Homo sapiens: one gene and its partners. The protein of the gene in region 2 purifies or fractionates together with the protein of the main gene of each other region. This does not show direct contact. Each region holds a gene or a part of one and is shown on either strand. Other genes may lie near its edges. The genes, in order: HAVCR2, GSKIP and A2ML1.

Region 1 (3,655 bases), on a different chromosome or scaffold from region 2:
TCTACTCCGTACTTGTCACAATAATTAATGGAGAGACAGACAAAATTTACTGAACACCCAGGAATCAACTTTAGGATGGCCACATTTTTTCATCTAGATAATGAACCGTACTGTTTTATGAAATAGAGACTTCTGCCAGGAAGTCCTACATTAAATATGTGCTTTGTTTTTTTCACAGGACCCTAATGAGTTCTACAAACATCTAGCAATATTGATAAGACTCAGGCATTATTTATTTATTTATTTATTTAGACACAGAATTTCACTCTGTCACCCAGGCTGGAGTGCAGTGGCATAATCTCAGCTCACCGCAACCTCGGCCTCCCTGGTTCAAGCAATTCTCATCCCTCATCCTCCCAAGTAGCTGGGACTACATGCATGCACCACCACGCCCAGCTAATTTTTGTATTTTTAGTAGAGACGAGGCCATGTTGACCAGGCTGGTTGTGAACTCCTGACCTCAGGTGATCTGCCCACCTCAGCCTCCCAAAATGCTGGGATTACAGGTGTGAACGACCAGGCTTGGCCTCAGGCATTATATTCTAATTAGATTTTAAAAGACAACAAAAATTCATTTCCTTCTTTTTTGTTTTTTTGAGACAGTCTCACTCTGTTGCCCAGGCTGGAGTGCAGTGGCACAATCTCAACTCACTGCAACCTCCATGTTCTTTTTCTTTTTTTTCTTTTTGCGAGACAGAATCTCACTCTATCACCCAGGCTGGAGTGCAGTAGCATGATCTCTGCTCACTGCAACCTCCATCTCCTGAGTTCAAGCGATTCTCCTGCCTCAGCCTCCCTGGTAGCTGGGACTACAGGGGCACACCACCACACACAGCTAATTTTTGTATTTTTAGTAGAGACGGGGTTTCGCCATGTTGGCCAGGCTAGTCTCGAACTCCTGACCTCAAGTGATCCACCCGCCTCGGCCTCCCAAAGTGCTGGGATTACAGGCGTGAGCCACCGTGCCGTGCCCAGCCTCCATTTTCTTAAATAAGTTTTGCATTTACTCATGAGAAGGGAGACAGGGTTGCCAACAAATGAAAATAATCACTGTGGTCACAATGTAATAGGAGCCAGGCCTTGTGCTAAATAAACTCTTTCAGTGAAGAAGCTCATTTTAGAGATACTTAGAAGCACTTACTTTAGAACTACGCTTCTAAAGTAGAGACTGTTAGTCCCATTGCACAGATGAAGAAACTGAAAATTAGGGAAGTGAAGTGACTAACCCAAGGTCACATGACTTAGCAAATGACAAAATGGCCTTCCAATTTAGGTCTGCATAGCCTTAAATGCACATTCTTAATTATACTGCCTTCACCAGCCCTTACCTCAGTGCTGTCATTATGAAGAGGGTCACGTTGCCCAGCCACCCACTCACCATCTTTCCTTCCTGTTCATTTGTTTATTTCTTCATCTGCTGATCCATTCCATGAATATGCACTATGCCCTTACTCTAGGCACAGGGGACAGAGCAGGAAACAAGAGGGGCACAGGCCCTGACCTCATGAACACTGAATTCTAAAAATAAGTACATTGCCAGCTTTTGGAAAACTAAGCATGCTTACTCATTTTTATGGCTGAGTCAGAGATGTTGAAACTTCTTAAATGTCACTGTCACCTTCTGGAAGCCTTAATGTGTATAAAGGGTTTGACTAAATGCTGGTTTAGCAAACTATAGTTTAAATATTATAAAGGCATAGCCTCAGCCTAAAATTATTGAAGAAAAAAAGATTATGTTCCAATTACTTTTGCCCTAATTACCAGAAAAAAATTTAAAATATAAAAACCACAGGCCTGGTGCAGTGGCTCACACCTGTAATCCCAGCACTTTGGGAGGCCGAGGGCAGGCAGATCACGAGGTCAGGAGATCGAGACCATCCTGGCCAATATGGTGAAACCCCATCTCTACTAAAATACAAAAAATTAGCCGGGCGTGGTGGTGTACGCCTGTAGTCCCAGCTACTCAGGAGGCTGAGGCAGTGGAATCGCTTGAACCCAGGAGGTGGAGGTTGCAGTGAGCCGAGATCACACCATTGCACTCCAGCCTGGTGACAGAGCAAGACTCCATATCAAAAAAATAAAAAAAAGACCCTCATCAGTACAACTGCTAAGTAAACATGAATCTTAAGTGCACATAAGATTTTAAATGTAAATCCAGTTTCAGACTCCTTATAATTATTTTTCTTGATAAAAATGGTAAAACTAACTTTTTAAAAACTTCATTTTGCTATGAAAATGATCAGTAAAATCAAGCACTGTTGTGTCATTACAGCTTTTTTTCACACAGATTTGGCCACCAACCAAGATGGATGGGACAGTTGAAGGGAGTGGCAATGTTCTTTCTGGAGAAACCAAGATTTGCCTGGTGGGGCAGGTAGCAGCGGAGGTGAGATGTGATGGCCTTAACAGTGTATAAATTTAGTAGTTACCATCTATTTGGTACTTATTAGGTGCCAGACATGGTGCTTAGCACCATATACATACAATCTCATTTAATCCTCAACCACAATAAGTAGGTACTACTATTTTCCCCATTTTTCAGATGAAGATACTGAGTCTGAGAGAGCCACTTTGCCCAAGATCACACAGCTATTAATTGGGAAAGCTAGGATTTAAAGCAGATCTACTCTAGAGCTGAGGACTCACCTGTGACCCAGTCCTTACTCCTTCAGGTAGAAGACAAGTTGCATTTGTTCTGTGTTCAAATTCCAGGCCCTTGGATCTCTTACTTTTAAAGGCTCTACTCCATTTTTTTTTTTTTTTTTTCTGAGAAAGGGTCTCGCTCTGTTGCCCAGGTTTGGAGTACAGTGGCACCAACTCGGCTCAGTGAATCCTCAACCTCCTGAGTTCAAGCAATCTTCCTGCCTCAGCCCTGCCAAGTAGCTGGGACTACAGGCACATGCCACCATGCCCGGCTATTTTTTTTTTTTTTTTTTTTTTTGGGATGGAATCTCGCTCTGTTTTCCAGGCTTCAGGACAGTGGTGAGATCTCGGTTCACTCCTCCCAGGCTCAGACAATTCTCCTGCCTCAGCCTCCTGAGTAGCTGGAATTATAGGCATGCACCACCATGACCAGCTAATTTTTGTATTTTTAGTAGAGACAGGGGTTTCACCATCTTGGCCAGGCTGGCTTAAACTCCTGACCTCAGGTGATCCATCTGCCTTGGCCTCCCAAAGTGCTGGGATTACAGGTGTGAGCCACTGCACTCAGCCTAATTTTTTGTATTCTTAGTAGAGATGGGGTTTTGCCATGTTGCCCAGGCTGGTCTTGAACTCCTGAGCTCCAGTGATCTGCCTGCCTTGGCCTCCCATAGTGCTGGGATTACACATGTGAGCCACTGTGCCCAGCCCCATTTTTATATTAAATGCTCCCACATCCCACATTTAGAGTTGGTTTGCCAGCAGCCAATTTACATAATGTTACATATTATAGACAAACCATTAAATATTCATTCATTTCAATTTTTTATTTTATTTTCCTATTTAGGAGCTACTGACCTATTTTTGGTTGTTTCAATATTTTTTCTCAGTCAGGCCCTTGAGAAGCTCAGAGGTTCGAGGTATTATTCCTATATTCCCATTTTTGTTGCCCTAGAGGGAAGGAACTAACAAACAAAAACTAAAGGGAAGGCTGGGCGTGGTGGCTTACACCTGT
Region 2 (3,655 bases):
CTCAAGTGATCCTCCTGCCTGGGCCTCCCAAACCACTGGAATTGCAAGTGTGAGCCACGACACCTGGCCTATCTGCTGGTTAAGTTCTTTAAACAGACCAGGTAAAATGGAGGTTTTAATATCTAGATTCTCATGTATATCTGTGTAGTTTTATTAATGTCCTCTCCTCTTGTTCCTCATTGCTCTTTCATAGTAGTAACAAGAGAAAGCTCACTTCAGTCATTTCAAATCCAAATGTAACAATGCAGAATTAAAAAATGGAAACAAGCTCTTGGAATTAATCATTTATCACAAAATGAACAATTTCAATTCTTAAACATACAATCACTTTTTTTCATACTAACTCAAAATGAGTAAACAGAATTTTATTCAAACTTTACAAATATCATTTACATTTAGCCTGAGATTAAACATGAGAAAGTTCAACCTGAAGTTAGACTTCGTTGCCCAGTTAAGCATCTGAAAATAAAGCTGAGAATGAACATACATCATCAAACAAAGCATTCCAATGAAGTCTGGCAATGAATTGTGACACAAACTGAACTTTAATTTGCTCTGGTCCACATGATCTTCAGAGCCTAAAAGTTCCTGTTTTTTAATAATGATGGAAAAATATCTGCAAATGATAAATGCATGAAGGTATGACCAGATGCAAAATTTTAGTTCAACATTTCTATAGCAGCTGCTTTAGGTGACCATTAAAAAACAACTCCCCAATCCTTACTGTTCAACATGTACTTGAAAACATGCAGCAGCATGGTACAGTTTATTAAATTTATAAATATCAGTACCTGTAATAAAATATAAAATACTGACTATTCCTTTTTCAAATATTAAGTCTCTGAATGCTTCATTCATCCTTTGGTTTCAAACCCATACAATGCACTCATATTACATTGTAGATTTCGAATGGAGACAGAACACTGTACATCTGTTGGGGAAGGTGGGGTGCTGTAGGAATACCAAAGCACTACATCATAGAAAGTAAACGTTGAAGCAAAAATACTTTCTGAATATATACTGTACATTATGTAAACACACATTCAGAATAAGAATCAACACAGGCCAAAATATTGTTTTCTAGGAAACCAGAATCTTCTTTCTTTTAAATCACACACTGAAGATGCTTTTTTGTTAAGAAAAAGAATGAAGTCTGTTCCTGTATTTGCTTATGTGCTTAGATATCTTGGAAATGAGTAATTATTACATTCATTTGCTAACGGTTTATCCTCTGCTTAGTTGGCTGGCTGTTGCAAACACGGAATACAGAACTATTTCAGTCCCTGTTTTTCATTTAATACTAGTTAAGTAATATATAATTAATTCATCTTTATTAATCCATTATTAGTAATATAAATAGATTAAGTGAAGCAGTGAATTTCAAAATTTGTGCAGGGGAAACTAGTTGATAATTTGTTTCCAATAAGGCTGGTAGCAATTAATTACTACAAAGTTTGTCCAAGCTAGTATTGAACCCCTGATTTAGCAGGCTGAATCAAAGTGTATAGTTAGGTACTTCTAATTCCTCTATTACTGTGCAAATCTAGAATTTCCTATGTAAAAGACAGTGCTGGCAGCATCAAAGCCCTGTAATAGTATGAAATAGTGATTAGGATTTGAAATGAAGAGATATTATATGAAGACATGTGAATGTCTTAATGATGGTATCATAGCAACGGCCTCAGAATTCCCTTACTGAAACAGAAACTAAGACAAATCATTATTCAATAATCTTCTGAGCCAAAAGCCTAAGTTGGAAGCAAGTGATAAAAACACAAAACCAAAGATGCATTTTCTATGACCATATGCAAGAATTTTAAGCTTTATATCAACATTCTGTACCAGCACCAGCCCCTCTGAAAGGAAAAAGTGTAGTCATGACTGTCCATCTCTTTTCAAAGCTTCCAGTCTTTGAAGCAGTGCGTTTCCAAATGCTTCTCGGTAGGCGGGGCTGAGTGTATCCAACAAGGAGTAGACTGTTTCATGGTAGGGAGTCTGTAAATGATCATCTACCTGGTCAAAAGCATAGCCTACCACCTACAAGAGAAATGCAACAGTGAATTCATTAGTTTTCATGTTGGTACAGAAAGCAAAATCCAAGTGTTTATGTGAGTAATCATCCTTTCAAAAAAATAAATTATTTCTTTTCCTAGCCACTAGACCACCAGATACATGGGTAACTGAGTGAAACTATTTCTCAAAGTCAGAGTATACACATTTTAAATACAACCTTTAATACTTCAGCAACTTATAATGTATAACACAGAAACACCACTAAAATGCTCCCTATAGAATTTTCAACATTTAAAAGGTTTTACTTAGAAGCTCAAGGAAATGCAGAGAAAGAATTTGAAAAGCTACACAAAAATGGTATTTCATTTTCATATTCTAAAACATGCATCTATTATTTACCCCATTTAATTCCACATATATTGAGGGTCCACTATATTAAGTACTATAATAGGTAATATATCATTAGTTCATATTTTTTTCATTATTTTTCACTTCTTTTATAAACAATTCTAAAAATTATTCCTAATAATTTAGTTTTAATAATTAGTTGTTAATTTTAATAATTGTTTATTAATAATTGGTTTAATAGTTTATTAGTTTTAATAACTGTTTAGCTTTATTATTAGTAATCTGAAAGGCCACTTTCACCTAATATATTTCTTACCTGACAGGGAATAAATGCTCAATTCTGTGAGATAAAAGAACATGTTAATGTGTTTTTTTTTTCTTGGTAGGGGTACACTATTTCTGGAGGTATTTGCAATACCAGGTCGATGTGTGAAGTTAATGGAGCAAGAGCCTATTCTATCTCCCTGCTCCAAAAATCCATTTAATATATTGTCCTTAGATAGAGGACATAACAGATATTAAACTGATAAGAAAAGATACTCCAATTGATCTTAGGCAAAAGGCTGACAGGCCATGTGTTTTTCTTTTTTTTTTTTTCCTGTGAACACAGCTACAACTTTTCTTTTTGACAAGATTATAAGGTATATCATGGTTCACCAGCACAATATAGGGCAAAATTAATTTAGTTTTTGCTGACTTAAGTGTGTACATTCCCTATATAAATCCTAAATTTTTATGACATCTATTTAAGCCATAGGAGGTGAAAGTTTGTGTTAGAAATAGAAGCTGAGTTTTTTTTTTTTTAAATGAAAAGCAGAGGCAGACACCTAAGGAAAATGAATCACACCTCTTCAGATCCATGCTCTATTACTGCACTCTCTACAGTGGAGTACAGTTCAGTTTGCCTTCTTCCTCTTATCTCTGCTAGACTGTGATCTTCCTGGTGGACAGGGATCATGTCTTATGCATGGTTTGATTTTCAATTGCTGACACAGGATAGTTGCTCAATAAATGTTAACTGAATCAGACTGAAAAACAAACAAATATTTGAGCACCTACTACATGTCAGGTTTTACATATGGTTCAGATCTTTCTGTATCATACAGTCATATAATCATTCCCCAAATCGTTTTAAGTTTTTTTTAAATCTCCAAGTTATAGATTAAGAAGCAGAAACTCTCTCAGGGGTAGACGGACTCACTCAAGATCACTTAAATTCACATTTAAGACTGCTGACTCTCTGATCAGAACTCCTTCTACCTCTCCACAGTCAACTTAGAATTAACCAACACAA
Region 3 (3,655 bases), on a different chromosome or scaffold from region 2:
TTCAGTCTAGCAGCCTGTAAGGATCAGAGACTTTGGGATGAGCTTGAAAAATCAATCCTCTCCTAGTCGAGTCTTCAGATGAAACCAGAGTCCTGACTGACAGCTTGATTGCAACCTCATGAGATACCTTGAGCCAGAGGTACCCAGCTAAGCTGCACCCAGATTAATGACCCATAGAATCTGTTTGATAATGTTTGTCCTTTTATGACACTTAAGTTTTACAATAATTTGTCAAGCAACATGAGATAACTCATACATATGAAAATCAAACTTTGAGTTGCAAGGATTTAATCTATGAGTGACTGACATCCCATAGGGTTGGGGGTGAGGATTAAACAAGTTAAAGGTGCAGTGACTCATTCTTGTAATCCCAGTACTTTGGAAGGGTGAGGCGGGAGAATCACTTGAACCCAGGAGTTTGAGAACAGCCTGGGCAACAGAGCAAGACCGCTTCTCTGCCAACTGAATTAGCCAGGCATGGTGGTGGCATGAGCCTATAGTCCCAGCTACTCCGGAGGCCTAGGTGAGAGGATCGCTTGAGCCTGGGAGGTTGAGGCTGCAGTGAGCAATGACCACACCACTGTACTCCAGCTTAGGTGACAGAGTAAGATCTTGTCTCTCTAAAAAAAAATAAAAGGCCAGGCGCAGCGGCTCACGCCTGTAATCCCAGCACTTTGGGAGGCCGAGGCAGGCAGGTCACCTGAGGTCAGGAGTTTGAGACCAGCCTGGCCAACATGGCAAAACCCCACCTCTACTAAAAGTACAAAAATTAGCCGGGTAGGGTGGCACGCGACTGTAATCCTAGCTACTTGGGAGGCTTGGCAGGAGAATCACTTGAACCCAGGAGGTGGAGGTTGCAGTAAGCACAGATTGCACCACTGCACTCCAGCCTGCGCAACAGAGCGAGACTTCCTCTCAAAAATAAATAAATAAAATAAAAATTAATTAGTCAATCAATTTAATGAGTTAATATATGTAAAGCAGTTAGAATAGTGCCTGGCCCAGGGACTCTTATAGTAAGTCCTTGATTAGTTACATGACCATGTATTCCTTGTCCAGCTATAAATATTAAAAGCTCTCCCTTTCACACTCAAAATATTCCGGTTTGAACAAATTTGTTTGGTCACCTATCAAAGAGTGTTTGTGTATTGACTTATAACAGCCTTAGGAGGGAGAAAAATAGTGGAAAATGGAGGAGGAAGCAAAGCAGATGTGGCAGAGGAAAAGACTGAGTGCTCAGTCACTGGTCTTCTGCTGCTGGCTTTCCTCGCCCGTCTACCACTTCCCTCTCTTACCCAATTTGACAGCTGTGATGTTCCAGTGGTGGGTTTTTGCGTCATCAGCACAGAGACAACTGGAGGTCTGAGAATCTGCCCATGATTCTAGCTGGTACTCATGCGATTTAGCCAGGTCAGTCTGAACCTACGGAGGATGTTTAAGAGACAAAGGGTACAAACAAAGGAGGTAGTGCATAGAGGCCTGGGGAAACCTGGGGGCTGAGACGCCGACATCTCCTCTCTTTCCCAGGGAAAATTGGGATGCTTCCAATTTAGAGACAAACTTATGGGGGAGGTGTGATTCCAGGGCTGACACCTGATTCCTGTATCCCCAGCTCTCACCCTGATGCAATCCTTTAGGTAATTGAAGATGGTGGCAGTAAGACGAAAGGATTCCCCACGGACTACTGAGTAAGGGAGAGTCAGGTCAACAAAGAACGGCTTGAAAGCAGTTAGTCCAACAGTGGGTGAAAGCCCGAAGCCTCTTGACTGGGAAGTGCAGAAACTCATCGCCTTCCACTCGGTGATGGCGTCAGGAACTGTGACGTGGACCGCCTCCTTCCCCGAGTTACTGTGAAAACACAAGGACCAACATGAGGCAGAGGTAGCGTGGGGCAAGGAGAACATTTGTGAATTAAGCCACAAATTCGGTGGGGTGTGCTGGCTTACACTTGTAATCCCAGCTCTTTGAGAGGCTGAGGTGAGCAGATAGCTTCAGCCCAGCAGTTTGAGGCCAGCCTGGGAAACATAGCAAGACCCTATTTCTACCAAAAATTTAAAAATTAGCCAGGTGTGGTGGTGCATGCCTATAGTCCCAGCTACTTAGGAGGCTGAGGCAGGAGGATTGCTTGAGCCCAGGAGTTTGAGGCTGCAGTGAGCTATGATTGCACCACTGCACTCCAGCCTGGGTGACAGGGCAAGACCCTGTCCAAAAAAAAAAAGCTACAAATTCATCTGCAGAAGTAAAATTGTTATTGTTATTGTATGGGGAGAAGTAAAGAGGCAACTGAACAGGTGAGTCTCAGTGTGAGTGAGGCTGCACTCATACGGAGGAGGGGGACTATGGTGGGGAGTCGGGGTGGGCATCTCTGTGCAAGCACATCTGACAGAGAGGCTGGTGCCCTCTGAGTCTGAGGATGTGTGGTCTCAGGGCTTGTCAAAATGGATATGCAAGCAGTGAGCAAAAATTGATGTCAATATATACCTTTAAATGTGTGTGGTTCTGTAGTGAGAACACAGGGCCTGCAATGTGTGAGTGTGGAATTGTGTGGATTTGTTTTGAGTGGTTGTATATGAATGCATGAAGAATTCAGGTAGGCCGGGCGCAGTGGCTCACACCTGTAATCCCAACACTTTGGGAGGCCAAGGCGGGTGGATCACTTGAGGCCAGGAGTTCAAGACTAGCCTGGCCAACATAGCAAAACCCTGCCTCTACTAAAAATACAAAACTTAGCCAGGTGTGGTGGCATGTGCCTATAGTCCCAGCTACTTGGGAGGCTGAGGCACAAGAATTGCTTGAACCTAGGAGGTTGAGGCCTACAGTGAGCCAAAATCATGCCACTGCACTCCAGCCTGGGTGACAGAGCAAGACTCTGTCTTAAAAATAAAAAGAAAAAAAGAATTCCGGAAAATAAATAAATTCCCACACCCCATCAAGCTTTCTTTGCTTAAGATTTAGATCCATTAGGAATGCGTCTGATTCTGAGTTTTCTACAGGCTCTACATTGCAGAATCTTACTGTTTTTTTTCTGGGTTTGTTGTTGTCGTTGTCGTTGTTGATTTTGAGAAGGGTTTTGCTCTGTCACCCAAGCAGGAGTGAAGCAATGTGATCTTGCTTCACTGCAGCCTCCACCTCCCAGACTCAAGTGATCCTTCCACCTCAGCCTTCCAAGTAGGACACAACTACCATCTGGCTATTTTTTTAATTTCTTTTGTAGAGACAGAAGCTCATTATGTTGCCCAGGCTGGTCTTGAACTCCTGGTCTCAAGTGATCCTCCCTCCTAAGCCTCCCAAAGTGTTGGGATTACAGGCGTGAGCCATGCACCTGGCCCTTTACTGTACTTTTGAGTCATCACTTACCCAATAGGAAACAGATCCCAGAGCCAGGTCTCTGGGAAGTACTGGCGGACCTGAGAATCCTCTGCTTGATGTAAAGGAGTTGATGACTCAAAAGCCTCTGGATGACCACCGCCTGCTGATGAAATTGAGAATACGAAAACTTTAGGAAACAGGAGACTTCTTGTTGTGACATAAATTGGGATGGAGGGATTACTAGAAAGAAATTTAGAGGGAAGCAGAGAACATCCAGTCAGAGGCAAGGAGGAAGGACCAAAGAGGAACTAACTAGTCACAAAGGCCATCGAGGGAAGTGATAGCC

The links.
Region 1: the proteins of GSKIP (region 2) and HAVCR2 purify together in Homo sapiens (affinity purification with mass spectrometry; one large-scale study listed by BioGRID and IntAct). This does not show direct contact.
Region 3: the proteins of GSKIP (region 2) and A2ML1 purify together in Homo sapiens (affinity purification with mass spectrometry; one large-scale study listed by BioGRID and IntAct). This does not show direct contact.

What each region holds. Positions count from the first base shown.
Region 1 is NC_000005.10:157,099,024-157,102,678, forward strand, and holds part of HAVCR2 (hepatitis A virus cellular receptor 2 precursor), read right to left. Parts: intron 1-3,655. UniProt on the Homo sapiens protein: Cell surface receptor implicated in modulating innate and adaptive immune responses. Generally accepted to have an inhibiting function.
Region 2 is NC_000014.9:96,383,905-96,387,559, reverse strand, and holds the end of GSKIP (GSK3B-interacting protein), read right to left. Parts: intron 2,937-3,655; exon of another isoform or gene 2,748-2,936; intron 2,038-2,747; coding exon 1,876-2,037; 3' UTR 272-1,875; downstream 1-271. UniProt on the Homo sapiens protein: A-kinase anchoring protein for GSK3B and PKA that regulates or facilitates their kinase activity towards their targets.
Region 3 is NC_000012.12:8,849,977-8,853,631, reverse strand, and holds part of A2ML1 (alpha-2-macroglobulin-like protein 1 isoform 1 precursor), read right to left. Parts: intron 3,473-3,655; coding exon 3,358-3,472; intron 1,849-3,357; coding exon 1,620-1,848; intron 1,423-1,619; coding exon 1,296-1,422; intron 1-1,295. UniProt on the Homo sapiens protein: Is able to inhibit all four classes of proteinases by a unique 'trapping' mechanism. This protein has a peptide stretch, called the 'bait region' which contains specific cleavage sites for different proteinases.